Regions from separate parts of the Homo sapiens genome. Here all the other regions are linked to region 1. Evidence: fine-mapped expression QTL. A gene starts in region 1. Each other region holds a variant in brackets. All regions are shown on one strand. Distances are from middle to middle. Region 1 holds the start of DDX46 (DEAD-box helicase 46). Region 2 overlaps PCBD2 (pterin-4 alpha-carbinolamine dehydratase 2). Region 3 overlaps SEC24A (SEC24 homolog A, COPII component).

Evidence for each region. PIP is the estimated chance that this variant, and not a neighbour inherited with it, causes the effect. A credible set is the group of variants that fine-mapping cannot tell apart.
Region 2: its variant is the best candidate, but not a certain one, in a credible set for the expression of DDX46 in whole blood (INTERVAL, PIP 0.70).
Region 3: its variant is the best candidate, but not a certain one, in a credible set for the expression of DDX46 in monocytes after R848 (Quach 2016, PIP 0.54).

The regions. Positions count from the first base shown.
Region 1 is chr5:134,756,668-134,760,907 of GRCh38, forward strand. It overlaps DDX46 (DEAD-box helicase 46), which reads left to right and starts at 2,112. Exons shown (of 23, transcript NM_001300860.2): 1 at 2,112-2,288. The coding sequence starts at 2,272. RefSeq lists an enhancer at 1,887-2,376.
Region 2 is chr5:134,945,685-134,949,924 of GRCh38, forward strand. All of the region lies in intron 2 of PCBD2 (pterin-4 alpha-carbinolamine dehydratase 2), which reads left to right. Among named protein-coding and RNA genes, the nearest start is that of CATSPER3, 20 kb to the right of the region's middle. The variant G/GT (reference allele first, on the strand shown) is at 2,091.
Region 3 is chr5:134,677,413-134,681,652 of GRCh38, forward strand. It overlaps SEC24A (SEC24 homolog A, COPII component), which reads left to right. Exons shown (of 23, transcript NM_021982.3): 8 at 2,190-2,316. Among named protein-coding and RNA genes, the nearest start is that of SEC24A, 31 kb to the left of the region's middle. The variant A/G (reference allele first, on the strand shown) is at 1,886.

The DNA of each region.
Region 1 (4,240 bases):
CTTCTCAGTCTTCATTGTTTAAGCCACTGGTGGTTTTCTATGTCTTTTAGGTTGAAATCCACATTCCCTACCTGCAGCCCACATCCAAACAATTTACAGGGGGATTCCTAACCCTCCTTGGTGTCCATCCTGTCACTCATTAATTAGCTCAGGCCTTCTTACCCTTGGCATGGACTGCCAGAACCTCCAGTCTCTATCCCTCTTCAATGCTTCTCGCAGCTACCACAGGTGGGCAGCAAGCCACGGGGGGCGTGGGGAGCATAAACTCATCTTGGAGTGTCACTCGTTGGTTTGCTTTTTTTCTTTAATCAACTATGTTGAGGTAAAATTTACATACAATAAGTCATGTACAGTTAAAGGGTACAGTTCAGTGAATTTTGAAAAATGTGCAAATCTATTCAATGACCACTAAAATCAAGACACAGAACTTTTCCATCATCTTTAGGTGTAAGAAAGTAAAATAGTACAGAGGCAAGTAAAGTAAAAATATGAGCCTTTCTCCAACTCCATTATAGCTTTTTGCAAAAACAACTCAACATGGCCGGGCACGGTGGCTCATGCCTGTAATCCCAGCACTTTGGGAGGCCGAGGCGGGCAGGTCTCCTGAGGTCGAGAGTTCAAGACCAGCCTGACCAACATGGAGAAACCCCATCTCTACTAAAAATACAAAATAAGCTGGGGTGGTGGTGCATGCCTGTAATCCCAGCTACTTGGGAGGCTGAGGCAGGAGAATCGCTTGAACCCAGGAGGTGGAGGTTGTGGTGAGCTGAGCTCTCACCATTGCACTCCAGCCTGGGCAACAAAAGCGAAACTCCGTCTCAAAAAAAAAAAACAAAAAAAATTCAACATTTCTGTGTGTGTTGCATGAGACAATACATATACATTTTTTTGGTGCCCAAACTCTCGAATAATGTTCTCAATCTTGACTGTACTTCAGAATTACCTGGGAAGCTTAAAAATTCCCAGTGCACAAGAAGCACTCCAGGCCAATTAAATCAGAACATAGGGGTGGAACCCAGGCTTCTATTTTATTTACTAATATTTTAGAGATGAGATTTCTCTGTGCTACCCAGGCTGGAGTCATCATAGCTCACTGCAGCCTCAAACTCCTGGGCTCAAGTAATCTTCTTGCCTCAGCCTCCCTGGCTCAAATGATCCTCTCACCTCAGCCTCCCAAGTAGCTAGAACCACAGGCGTGCCAGCACACCTGGCTAATTATTTTGCTTATTTTTTGTAGAGGGTCTCGCTATGTTGCCCAGGTAGGTCTTGAATTCCTGGGCTCAAGCCATCCTCCTGCCTCGGCCTCCCAAAGTGCTGGGATTATAGGCATGAGCCACCATGGCTGGCCCTTTTTTTGTTTTTTTGTTTTATTTTTAAGCTTCCCAGTGCAAGCAATGTTGAGAACTAATCTTTTGCCAAAGTATTTTTAGCTCTTTGTTCTCTACTAGGTTAACACCTACCGGGTCTTCAAATCTCACCTCAGAGTTCACTTCCAAGGGAAACGTGTTTTCTGAATCCGTCTCCAATGGTGGACTCTCCTTGCTGTATTACTTCTGCTTGTGTTTTTAGTCAAGTCTATTATTATTACTATTTTCTTTGCAGAGACGAGGGCTACGTTGCCCAGGTCTTGAATTCCTGGGCTCAATAGATCCTCCCGCCTCAGCCTCCCAAAGTGCTGGGATTTCAGGCGTGAGCCACTGTGCTGGCTTTAGTCATCTGTTTCCCGGATAGACTGTGAGCTCCCCAGGATCTAGCACAAGCCTGGCATATGACAACATAAATAAATGAGTGAATGTATACATGAATAAAGAGCGTGTACGGAGAAAGTTGCCGCATTATTTAGCGCAAATTAAGGCAGACATCAGCCTGCCCAGGACGCCTCTTTGGCTCTGGCGCGAAACACCCTCACGGGCCGGCGAGGCTGACGCGCTGCGCTCCATCGCACTAATCAGCCGGGCGTGGTGCGGGCGCCGGGAAGACTGGGCGGGGCGAAGGCATCACCTTTCGATGGGGCCGGCGCTGTGCGTCCTCCAGTCGAGGTGGGGCGCTGTGGAAGAGCGGCAGCTTCCGGTCGGCTTTTCTCTTCCTTCGGCTGCCGGCGCCAGCACGTCCTGTTTTCGTTGGCCGCGCTGGGATGGCCGCCACAGCTGTAGGTGCTGCTAGTGTTTAGCGCTGGTCTTTGCCGGGCGTTGAGGGCAGCTCAGCCTCCTTGTTTGTCCGGTTCGCCTGTGCGTGGTACTCAAGGGCACCAGTATTCCCGCGGTCGGCAGCATGGGTCGGGAGTCACGGTGAGGCAGAGCGCCGAGCGGGCTAGCGGGCGAGCGGCTTCTTGGGGTCGTGAGAAGAGGCGGGAGTTGAGGTGGCCGCCGGGCCAGGCCTGGCGCGGCCCCACGTGCGGTCAGCGCTGCCCCGCGAGCATTGGAAGGGCTGGGGGACCTCGGCTGAGGGAATGGTTGTGTTTGGGCCAGCGACGGCTTCCCCTGCACTACCATCAGAGGGTTCGAGCCCCTGGAGCGGGAACAACCCTCCAGGACGTTAGTGATTGGGCACCACATCCCGCCACTTCAAGGGAGCCTGCCCTGATTACTTCAGTCAGAAGTGATCCCAGTTGGATTGCTTATTGCTTCGCGTTTCCAACATTTCCTCGACTCCTGTCATTCTGTATTTTAGTTCTTTGTGCGCGTATGATCTTTTCCCAAGTTACTTGAAAGGAGCGTGTGGGCAGACATTTTTACCGCATCGACAGCACTATACACGACTAGGCTTTTACTGGGCTACAATAAATACTTGTTGCGTGGGCATTTACTTCGCAAATAGATTTCGTATTTAAGCAGGTAACTTTGTTACCTGCTTTTCTGTCCTTTTGAAGTTGTGGACTATGAGCTCTTATTAGAACTCATTAGATCTCATCACAACTTTAGATTGTTGATAGATTGTTAGGAACCTTGAGATTTTTATGTTAAAAATGACTATTTGCTATGTATTTAGCAATGACTGAAAGATATTTTATGTCTAGGAACAATGAAGGCTTTTGTTGTTAGTGCTAACAGTTCTTTGTTGAGGTACAATTAACAATCAGGGAAATGGACAAAACGTAAGGGTAAAGCTTGATGAAATTTAGCAAATATATAAACCGTGTAATCATCACCTGGATGAAGATAAAAAATATTTCTTTAACTACAGAAAATTCCTGTGACGGTGTTTTAAATCTCCGGAAGGCTGTCCAGACCAGAAATCTGAAAGTGATATTTATTTGACTCATTCTTCTCTCTCACTACCCACAGCCTGTTAGATTCTACATCCTTTGCCCATTCTGGTTGTCCCTGACTTAATTGAGGCCCTAATTATTTATTGTCCAGACTACTACATCTGTTTTAAATTGATTCTCTGAATTGATTGTCTTCCTCTGTTGCTCTCCTAATTGTTAGATCCCTTACACTACAGCCAGAGTGACACTTCTGAAGTAGAGATAAGATGATGGCATGCCCCTGACTTAGTCTCCATTGGTTTCTACTGCTTCCAAGATGAAATTTAAACTCTATGACAGCCTTCAAGGCCCTTCACAAGAAGGTCCATTCTAGCCCGTCAGCCTTCTCCTTTACCTCTCTGGTGTGCATGGCCTGTGCTCTAGGTTTGTTCAGGGAATCATGAAAGGCTTAGAGGTGGGAAGGCGCAAGGTGTTAGAGAAATAGCTAAAAAGCCCAATTTTTCTGCATATGTAGGTTTCATGAAGGGATTTTATCTTTTTTGAGAAGTAGTAGGAGGTAGGTCCTGAATAGGACTTGGGCCCAGAAAGCGGGTGGATTGTAGATTTTGAAGATCAGAATTTGTTTGTGAACCTTTGAAGATTTTGAGTAAAAAGTGTGTAATAGAATCAGAATTCTCCTTAGCAGCAATGAGTAAGATTTAATGGAAAAGTAATAGAAACAGGAAGACTACAGTCTTTAAGAATCTCCTAGGTAGATATGTCTGATATAGAATAGTGACGGTTGGAACTCTGTGGAGGTGATATAATGTGAAGGGAATTACAGAGGTGAAATTGGTATTACTTGGTTGTTTTTTTGTTTTTGTTTTTGTTTTTGAGACAGAGTCTCGCTCTTTCGCCAGGCTGGAGTGCAGTGGTGGGATCTCGGCTCACTGCAAGCTCCGCCTCCAGGGTTCACGCCATTCTCCTGCCTCAGCCTCCCGAGTAGCTGGAACTACAGGCGCCTGCCACCGCGTCAGGCTAATTTTTGTATTT
Region 2 (4,240 bases), 190 kb after region 1:
ACAAATTTTCTAGATTTTAAAAAAGTGGCATAAAATTACTTTATGTATGATTCCAGCAAATTGGAACCGCTTCAGTGTCCCAAAGAAGCACATTTTCTGCGCAAAGCACTGTGCATTTTTGTGAGACCTCCTCACACCCAGTAGTGATGTTAAGAAGTAACAGAGCCTCAGATTTACAGAGTAGTAGAGGCAAGAGAGGTTTAGGATTTGCTGAAGGCCATAGAATGAGACATAGCTAGGATTAGCATTTTTCAGGATATAAGGATACCACCCACCAGACTTTGTCTTTGATACCAAAAATAGGGTTTAAGTGCTAAGCTTACTTTCCTTTCTTTGTGGCTATAAGCCCTGGTATTTTTCTTTAACAAATAATTAAAATTATTATTAAATAAATAAATATACTTAAATAAGATTGTTTAAAACAAAAACAAAAAATCCCTACTTTCCATCTATAAGGGTAGGAATGTTTCTCTCCTTAAGCCTACCCTTATAGGTTGGGTAGGCTTAAGGAGAGAAAAATAACAGGTTAAGGATAAATCCTGAATATATTTGTGGTTTCCTTCAGCTCGATGTCTGAAGATTCTCACAGGTTCAGGGACTATTCCAAGTTTGCAACCTGTGTGTGGATTTTGAAACAAATACAGACAACTTATGAGACGGTTTCTTTGCTGGGCTTCTTGCTTGACACAGTTTTCTGAAACATGGCTCTGGCAGGCTTTTTTCTTCCATGGACACATTGCTGCCGTTTATCACTGAAGTTCCTCTGTGGAGTTACCAGGAGCTAATATTTGGATGATGTACTTTTCTTGCAGAAAATATTAGCAAATGTTGCAGAAACTGTGCTTTAAAAACTTTTAAAAGGGGAATGGATTCCCAGTTTAAAAATAAGCAAAAGAAAGGATAAACATGATTTCATTGATGGTGTGCAACTGCTTTAGAACATCAGATATTTTGTGATGTGAAATGGGATGATACTCTATTTTACAAAATGTGTACTGCTTATAGAAAATGTATTTACTGTACCACTAAGCCAAACTTAGGTGTTGCTTTGTTTCCTTAAAATATTTTTTGAGTCGCTGTGGCTGCCCCACAGATGATGGGGGAGTAGGCATTCTTTCTGCCCAGAGCACTTGTTCTCTTCCTCCACCCTTTTGGTTGTTATTGTAGCATCTTGACTTTCAGCTTAACACATCCCAACTTAAGCAGAAGCCCTTTTGCCTTCTCTCTCTTTAAAACTAGATCCATAGAAATTATTTTTATTACAGTAATAGGGCAAGATAGTTTTATGTCATATATAAACTGGAATTATGTAGTGTTAGTAGTAGTTATGTCTCCTGAAAGGAACCAGTTGATTATAAAGAAGAAAAGTTAGGGAGTAGACTGTCATTTTGCATGCTATTAAAAAAAAAAATTTTTTTTTTTTTTGAGATGGAGTTTTGCTCTTGTTGCCCAGGCTGGAGTGCCATAGTGCGATAATGGCTCATTGCAATCCCTGCCTCCTGGGTTCAAGCGATTATCCTGCCTCAGCCTCCCGAGTAGCTGGGATTACAGGCATGTGCCACCACACTTGGCTAATTTTGTGTTTTTAGTAGAGACGGGGTTTACTCCATGTTGGTCAGGCTGGTCTCAAACCCCTGACCTCAGGTAATCTGCCTGCCTTGGTCTCCCAAAGTGCTGGGGTTACAGCCATCGCGCCCGGCCTCAATTTTTTTTTTTTTTTTTTTTTTGAGACGGAGTCTCGCTCTGTCACCCAGGCTGGAGTGCAGTGGCGCAGTCTTGGCTCACTGCAAGCTCCTGGGTTCATGCCATTCTCCTGCCTCAGCCTCCCGAGTAGGTGGCACTACAGGTGCCCACTACCACGCCTGGCTAATTTTTTGTATTTTTAGTAGAGACAGGGTTTCACCATGTTAGCCAGGATTGTCTTGATCTCCTGACCTTATGATCCACCCGCCTCGGCCTCCCAAAGTGCTGAGATTACAGATGTGAGCCACCGCGCTCGGCCCCCTGACCTCAATTTTTAAAAATATATTTGGGCAGGTACTTTGTGTATCTTAGTGGTTCGGAAGCACAAAGTTGAAGCCTATGAAGTC[G/GT]TTTTTTTTTTATATAAAGTAGAATTTCTTATAATTTTATAATGATGACAGTACCAAGGAGCTTAAATACAATTTTTAAAAGGATTGCTAAAACAAAACTAACTAAACTTTGGTAATCTTTGCAATACCTCTCACCTCATAAGACTCTGAAAGCCAACAAATAAGGATTATCAGCAGATTAGGGAAGAAAACCTCCAACAGGACTTTTCTGAGGCAGCTGATTGGCAATAATGAACAGCCCCAGTGAATTGCAAAGCATCACAAGTTATTTTGACACCAGGGAACTCTGGTAAGGGGCTTCTCTTGGGGTGGTTTTAAAACCAGTGCTTCTGTTTGCTTTAGGAGAAAAGAATGGGTAGAAAACTGGTGAAATGTGCTAATTCAAAACTGAAAGATTGTGAGAAATTTAAGAAAGAGCTAATCAGACTGGGCAATTGGTCTGCCCAATAGTAGCTGATGAAGATATGGCGAAATGAATTTAAACTTAGGTGCAGAGGAATTTGGAAACCGGTAGTGTCTCTTCAGGGAAAAGATACTCATAGCTAGTGATCACCTTGGCCAGAATGTCTTTTTGGTATACATCAGCTGTGTGAACTCTATCTAGTTAGAGAACTTTCACTAAAAATGAAACAGAAATGAAGGGCCTTTTGGTAAAATCGTGTGTAGAGTTTTTTTTTGTGGATGTAAACCCTGCCACCTGGAGAATAGTGGATTTATATTAATATACTCCTATCTAAGAGGAGTTTTCCTAGCCTGGGAATTCAGTAGAAATTTACTGATGTATTGAAAGTCCTAATTCTGCAAAAGAAAGTTGTTTTGCACCTTGCTTTTCATTTAACAGTATATGTTGAAGATGGTACCATGTCATTAGCTAAAGAGTTGCCATATTTTTTCAATTGGCTGTGTAGGCTATTATGGCAATTGCCAAGAATAGTGACTTGAAGCTTTTTTTTTTTTTTTTAAAAGGCTCTAAAATGCTACAGTATGAAAACAGCTTTTGAAAGCAGTGTTTAGAAGTGAGCATGCTATCTCACAGGTGTTGACCTGTTCAGTGACATTTAAAAAATGTACTTATTACCATGAGCTAAGGGGGACTCATTTCGTCTGGGGCCTGGAAGAGCAGGCAGCTTTTTCAGTAGCTTGTGGATGTTGTCTTCAGTGCCTGGAGAAGCCAGTTTTAATTTCATAGTTGGATATTCTTGGCCTGAGTTATTGGAAATGTTGAGCTCTGTGGCGGATCAAGTAGATGGCAAGTAGACTAGTGGCTTAGGATTGGTGGGAGTTGTGTCTGCCCCCAGACACACAAGGGACTGCACAGGGAATGGTCCTCAAGCAGGCCTTTAGCCCCACTTCCTCAGGGAGACATGAGTCACCTGCTTGGCTGAGATGCTCGCTGACAGATTGCCAGTTCCGCAAGGAAATCTTCCCGTGCCGACACCCACTCAGAGAAACAGTGCTAAAGATGTTTCTGGTTTTCTGAGCCTTGTAAAGGTGAATTTCTTTGGCCTTCAAATTGGTCTTCTGCTAGGTTTGGAAAGGAATTCTTCCTTTCCAGGCCACAGACACTATAATATCAAAGTGTTATTGATGATGATAATAATCACTAGCATTAACTGAGTTCTTAATAGAGTGCCAGGCATACTGTAAAGTATATTACATGAATTAGCTCCTTTTACGTATGGGGAAACTGAAACTCGTTTCAAAAGTTAAGTAACTTTTCTGAGGTCATATAGCTAGTGAATAGCAGAGCTAGGAACTGAACTTAGTTGACCAGTGTGCTAAAAATATGTCTGACAGTCCAGAGAAAAAAAGCATGGATTAAATACATCTTTGGTTGGATCTGTTCCTCACAGTTTAGTTGAGAATATTCTTGTGTTGCCTACAATTAAAATCTGACGTTTCCTTTGCAGCGGCTAGAACAGTTAACAGTGTTCCACGTGAAAGTCTTGGTGAGACATGTAATCATGTTCTGTGGCAAAGAATGCCTTTACTTGGTGCACTAGACAGTGTTTATGTGATTGATAAGTCACCAACACCAGGGGAAGGTCCTGTCCTGTGACATGTGCGTGCTTGGCAATGATCTTGCCTTGCATTTTGCTTAATAATTTTCATTATTTTTAATTAAAGTTGAAGAAGTGCAGACTCTAGCT
Region 3 (4,240 bases), 79 kb before region 1:
CTACTTTTGGTGATAGGATTTTTTTGGTGGTGATATAATTTTATTGCCTGTATTGATTTTTTTTTTTTTTTTTAAGAAGCAGAGTCTTAACTGCATTGCCCAGGATTGGGTATGAGATCCTTATCTTAAAAAAAAAAAATAAAGGCCAGGTGCAGTGGCTCACACCTGTAATCCTAGCACTTTGGGAGGCTGAGGCGGGCAGATCACCTGAGGTCAGGAATTCAAGACCAGCCTGGCCAACGTGGTGAAACTCGTCTCTACCAGAAATAGAAAATTTAGCCAAGCATGGTGATGCACACCTATAATCCCAGCTACTGGGGAGGCTGAGGCAAGGGAATCGCTTGAACCCGGGAGGTGGAGGTTGCAGTGAGCCAAGATCCCACACTGTACTCCAGTCTGGGCAATAGAGTGAGACTGTCTCAAAAAAAAAAAAAAAGATAAATAAAACCTTTCTTTAAAGATGAGATGCTATGTCACTTTGTTGTCCAAGGCACTGGCTCTCAGTTAAGTTGATCAGTGTTCACCTGTCTCAGGGTTTCTGGTAAATCAAAACAAATCTCCCCAAATCTGATAGTCTTACAAAGACCCTTCCCACGTATTTACTGTTATTTATTTATTTATTTATTAGAGACCGGGTCTCTCGTTGTCACCCAGGTTAGAGTGCAGTTCCATGATCATAGCTCACTGCAGCCTTGAACTCTTGGGCTCAAGCAGTCCTCCTGCCTCAGCCTCCAGACAGAGTAAGTGGTACTGTAGGCATTGGCCACTATACCCAGCTAAGACTTTAGAACTTTTAATATGTAGGATAAACTTTAACTAGGAGTGTAATTCCAAAGTTTAACTGGTTATTTAAATTAACCTCACCTTACTTTATTATAGTTGAGAACTAAGTAAGCTTCTTAATGTAACATCAACAAACTTTGTAATAGTTTCATTGGTCATATATTTTAGAATGTTGATTTTTTTTTCTTTGCCATTTATGCCAAAAGTACATTGTAAATTTACCATCTTGGTTTTATTTTTTTAACTTATTATTTATTTATTTAAAAACTCTTTTTTTTTGGTAGAGATGGGCTGTTGCTGTGTTGCTCAGGTTGGTCTCTACCTCCCAGCCTCAAGTGATCCTCCTGCTTTGGCCTTCCAAAGCACTGGGATATATATATATATATTTTTTTAATTTATTTCCAAGATGGAGTCTTGCTCTGTTGCCCAGGCTGGAGTACAGTGGTGTAATCTTGGCTCACTGCAACCTCTGCCTCCCAGGGTTGAAGCAATTCTCCTGCCTCAGCCTCCTGAGTAGCTGGGATTATAGGCACCTGCCACTACGCCTAGCTAATTTTTGTATTTTTAGTATAGACGAGGTTTCACCACGTTGGCCAGGCTGGTCTTGAACTCCTGACCTCGCGTTCCACCCGCCTTGGCCTCCCAAAGTGCTGGGATTACAGGCATGAGCCACCACGCCCAGCCTATTTTTATTTTTAAAATAGAGACAGGGTCTTACTTTCTTGCCCAGGTTGGTCTCAAACTCCTGGCCTCAAGTAATCTTCCTGCCTTGGCCTCCCACCAGAGTGCTGGGATTTTAGACATAGGTGTTAGCCACTGTGCCTGGCCTGCTATTTTGGTTTTGCAATATGAGTGTTTAATGAGGAAAAAAATGGTTTTTACATTTTTATTTTATTTTATTTTTTGAGACTGGGTCTTGCTCTGTTGCCCATGTTGGAGTGCAGTGGCTCAGTCATGGCTCACTGCAGCCTTGACCTCCCAGGCTCAAGTGATGCTCCCACTTCAACCCAGCTCACCACACTGGGCTAATTTTTTAAATCTTTTGAGAGGGTCATGTTTCACTATGTTGCCCAGGCCGGTCTCAAACTCCTGGCCTCAAGCA[A/G]TCCTTCCGCCTTGGCTCCCAAAGTGCTGGAGTTACACATGTGAGCCACTGTCCCCAGCCAATAATTTTTTTTTTTAAGACAACTTTTAATGAGAATGGTCTTGGAGCAAAATAGTAGGGTTTAAAATTAATACATTTCAACTACATGGTTTTTGTGTATGGCAGTTTAGATACATCTTGTACTCTAAGTTTTCTCTAAAATGATAATATCCCAACAGTTATTTAGACAGGATGGATTCATGCTTATGTTTTCAACATGATGATTTTTGCCTTTAAAAATTTAATTCTGTTTTTTTTTTTCCAGCAATTGCCTGTGGTTACCTCCAGTACAATTGTGAGATGCCGTTCATGCAGGACGTACATCAATCCTTTCGTCAGCTTTCTTGATCAAAGGAGATGGAAGTGTAACTTATGTTATCGAGTCAATGATGGTATGGGATGCTTTTTTGAAACATTTAAACGTTTCTACTTGCATTGTAGGGAAATCAGATGATACAAATGCACAGTTAAAAAAAAAAAACCCTTTTATTTACCTCTAGTCAATCCTTCCACTCAGAGAAAACTACAGGTAACTTTTTTCTGTGCGTTTATATTTATAAATAAATTTAATTATTTATTTTTTAAGCAAAAAATAATGATAGTATTACATGGATATCCCATTTTTACATTGTATTGGGTATATAATAAGTGGTATATTTCATGGTATTACTTAAGCCAGGAATTTAAGAAACATTTTTATTTAGAAATTGTCCCACGCCTTTTCTCTAGGGTGAAAGAAAATAAGTCCACAGAATAGCTGCCCAATTCATTCACTGCTGAATGAAGGGAAGTAGGCAGTGCTAGAAGGTTAGTTGAATGTAGTTTTCTCAGTAATTGAGGAGGAGGAGATTTCTCTCAATAACTATGTCACAGTTTTTATTTGAGGACTATAATGTAATCAACAGGGTTCTGTTAGTATTAGAGAAGGAAGTGGGTATGCCAGTATCCACAGTGTCTATTTGAAAGATTTGAGAAATAGAGGAATATAAGAGTTTTGTTTTTGTTTTTGTTTTTGAGATGGAGTCTCACTCTGTTGCCCAGGCTTGAGTGCAGTGGCACGATCTTGGCTCACTGCAACCTCCGCCTCCCAGGTTCAAGCGATTCTCCTGCCTCAGCCTCCTGAGTAGCTGGAATTACAGGCATCCACCACCACGGCCGGCTAATTTTTATATTTTTAGTAGGGGTGGAGTTTCACCGTTTTGGCCAGGCTGGTCTAGAACTCCTGACCTCAAGTGATCTGCCCACCTCAGGCTCCCAAAGTGCTGGGATTAACAGGCATGAGCCACTGCACCCGGCCAAGAGTTTGTTTTTGTTTGTTTGTTTTTGAGACAGAGTCTGGCTCTGTCGCCAGGCTGGAGTGTAGTGGCATGATCTCAGCTCACTGAAACCTCTCTGCCTCCCAGGTTCAAGCAATTCTCCTGCCTCAGCCTCCCGAGAACACACCCAGCCCTGGCCAAGAGTTTTTAAAAACCAGTTTTATTGGATGGGCACGGTGGCTTACGCCTCTAATCTCAGCACTTTGGGAGGCCGAGGCGGTGGATCACCTGAGGTCAGGAGTTCGAGATCAGTGTGGCCAACACAGTGAAACCCCATCTTTACTAAAAATACAATAATTAGCCGGGTGTGGTGGCGGGCACCTATAATCCCAGCTACTCGGGAGGCTGAGGCAGGAGAATCGCTTGAACCCAGGAAGCAAAGGTTTCAGTGAGCCGAAATCGAGTCATTGCACTCCAGCCTGGGCGACAGAGCGAGACTCTGTCTCAAAAACAAACAAAACAGAGCCAGGTGCAGTGGCTCATGCCTGTAATCCCAACACTTTGGGAGGCTGAGGTGGGTGGATCACCTAAGGTCAGGAGTTTGAGACCAGCCTGGCCAATGTAGTGAAACCCCATCTTTACTAAAAATATAAAAAAATTAGCTGGGTGTGGTGGCGGGCACCTGTAATCCCAGCTACTCGGGAGGCTGAGGCAGGAGAATCGCTTGAACCCGGGAGGCGGAGGTTGCAGTGAACCGAGATTGCACCATTGCACTCCAGCCTTGGCAACAAGAGCAAAACTCCATCTCAAACAAACAAATAAAACAAAACAAAAAAACAGTTTTATTGTTTGTGTGTGTGTGTGTGTGTGTGTGTGTGTGTGTGTGTTTTGAGTATAGAAAAGTAAGGATAGGCTAAGAACTTTCTCTTGCACTGTAACAATTCTGAAAATGTACATGAAGTATTTAGTTACCTTTAAAATTTTTATGTGTAGGTGCTTTAATATACAAAATGAAATTATAATAAAAGTTGAAGCCCCTTTCATCTGCAAACCAGGCTAT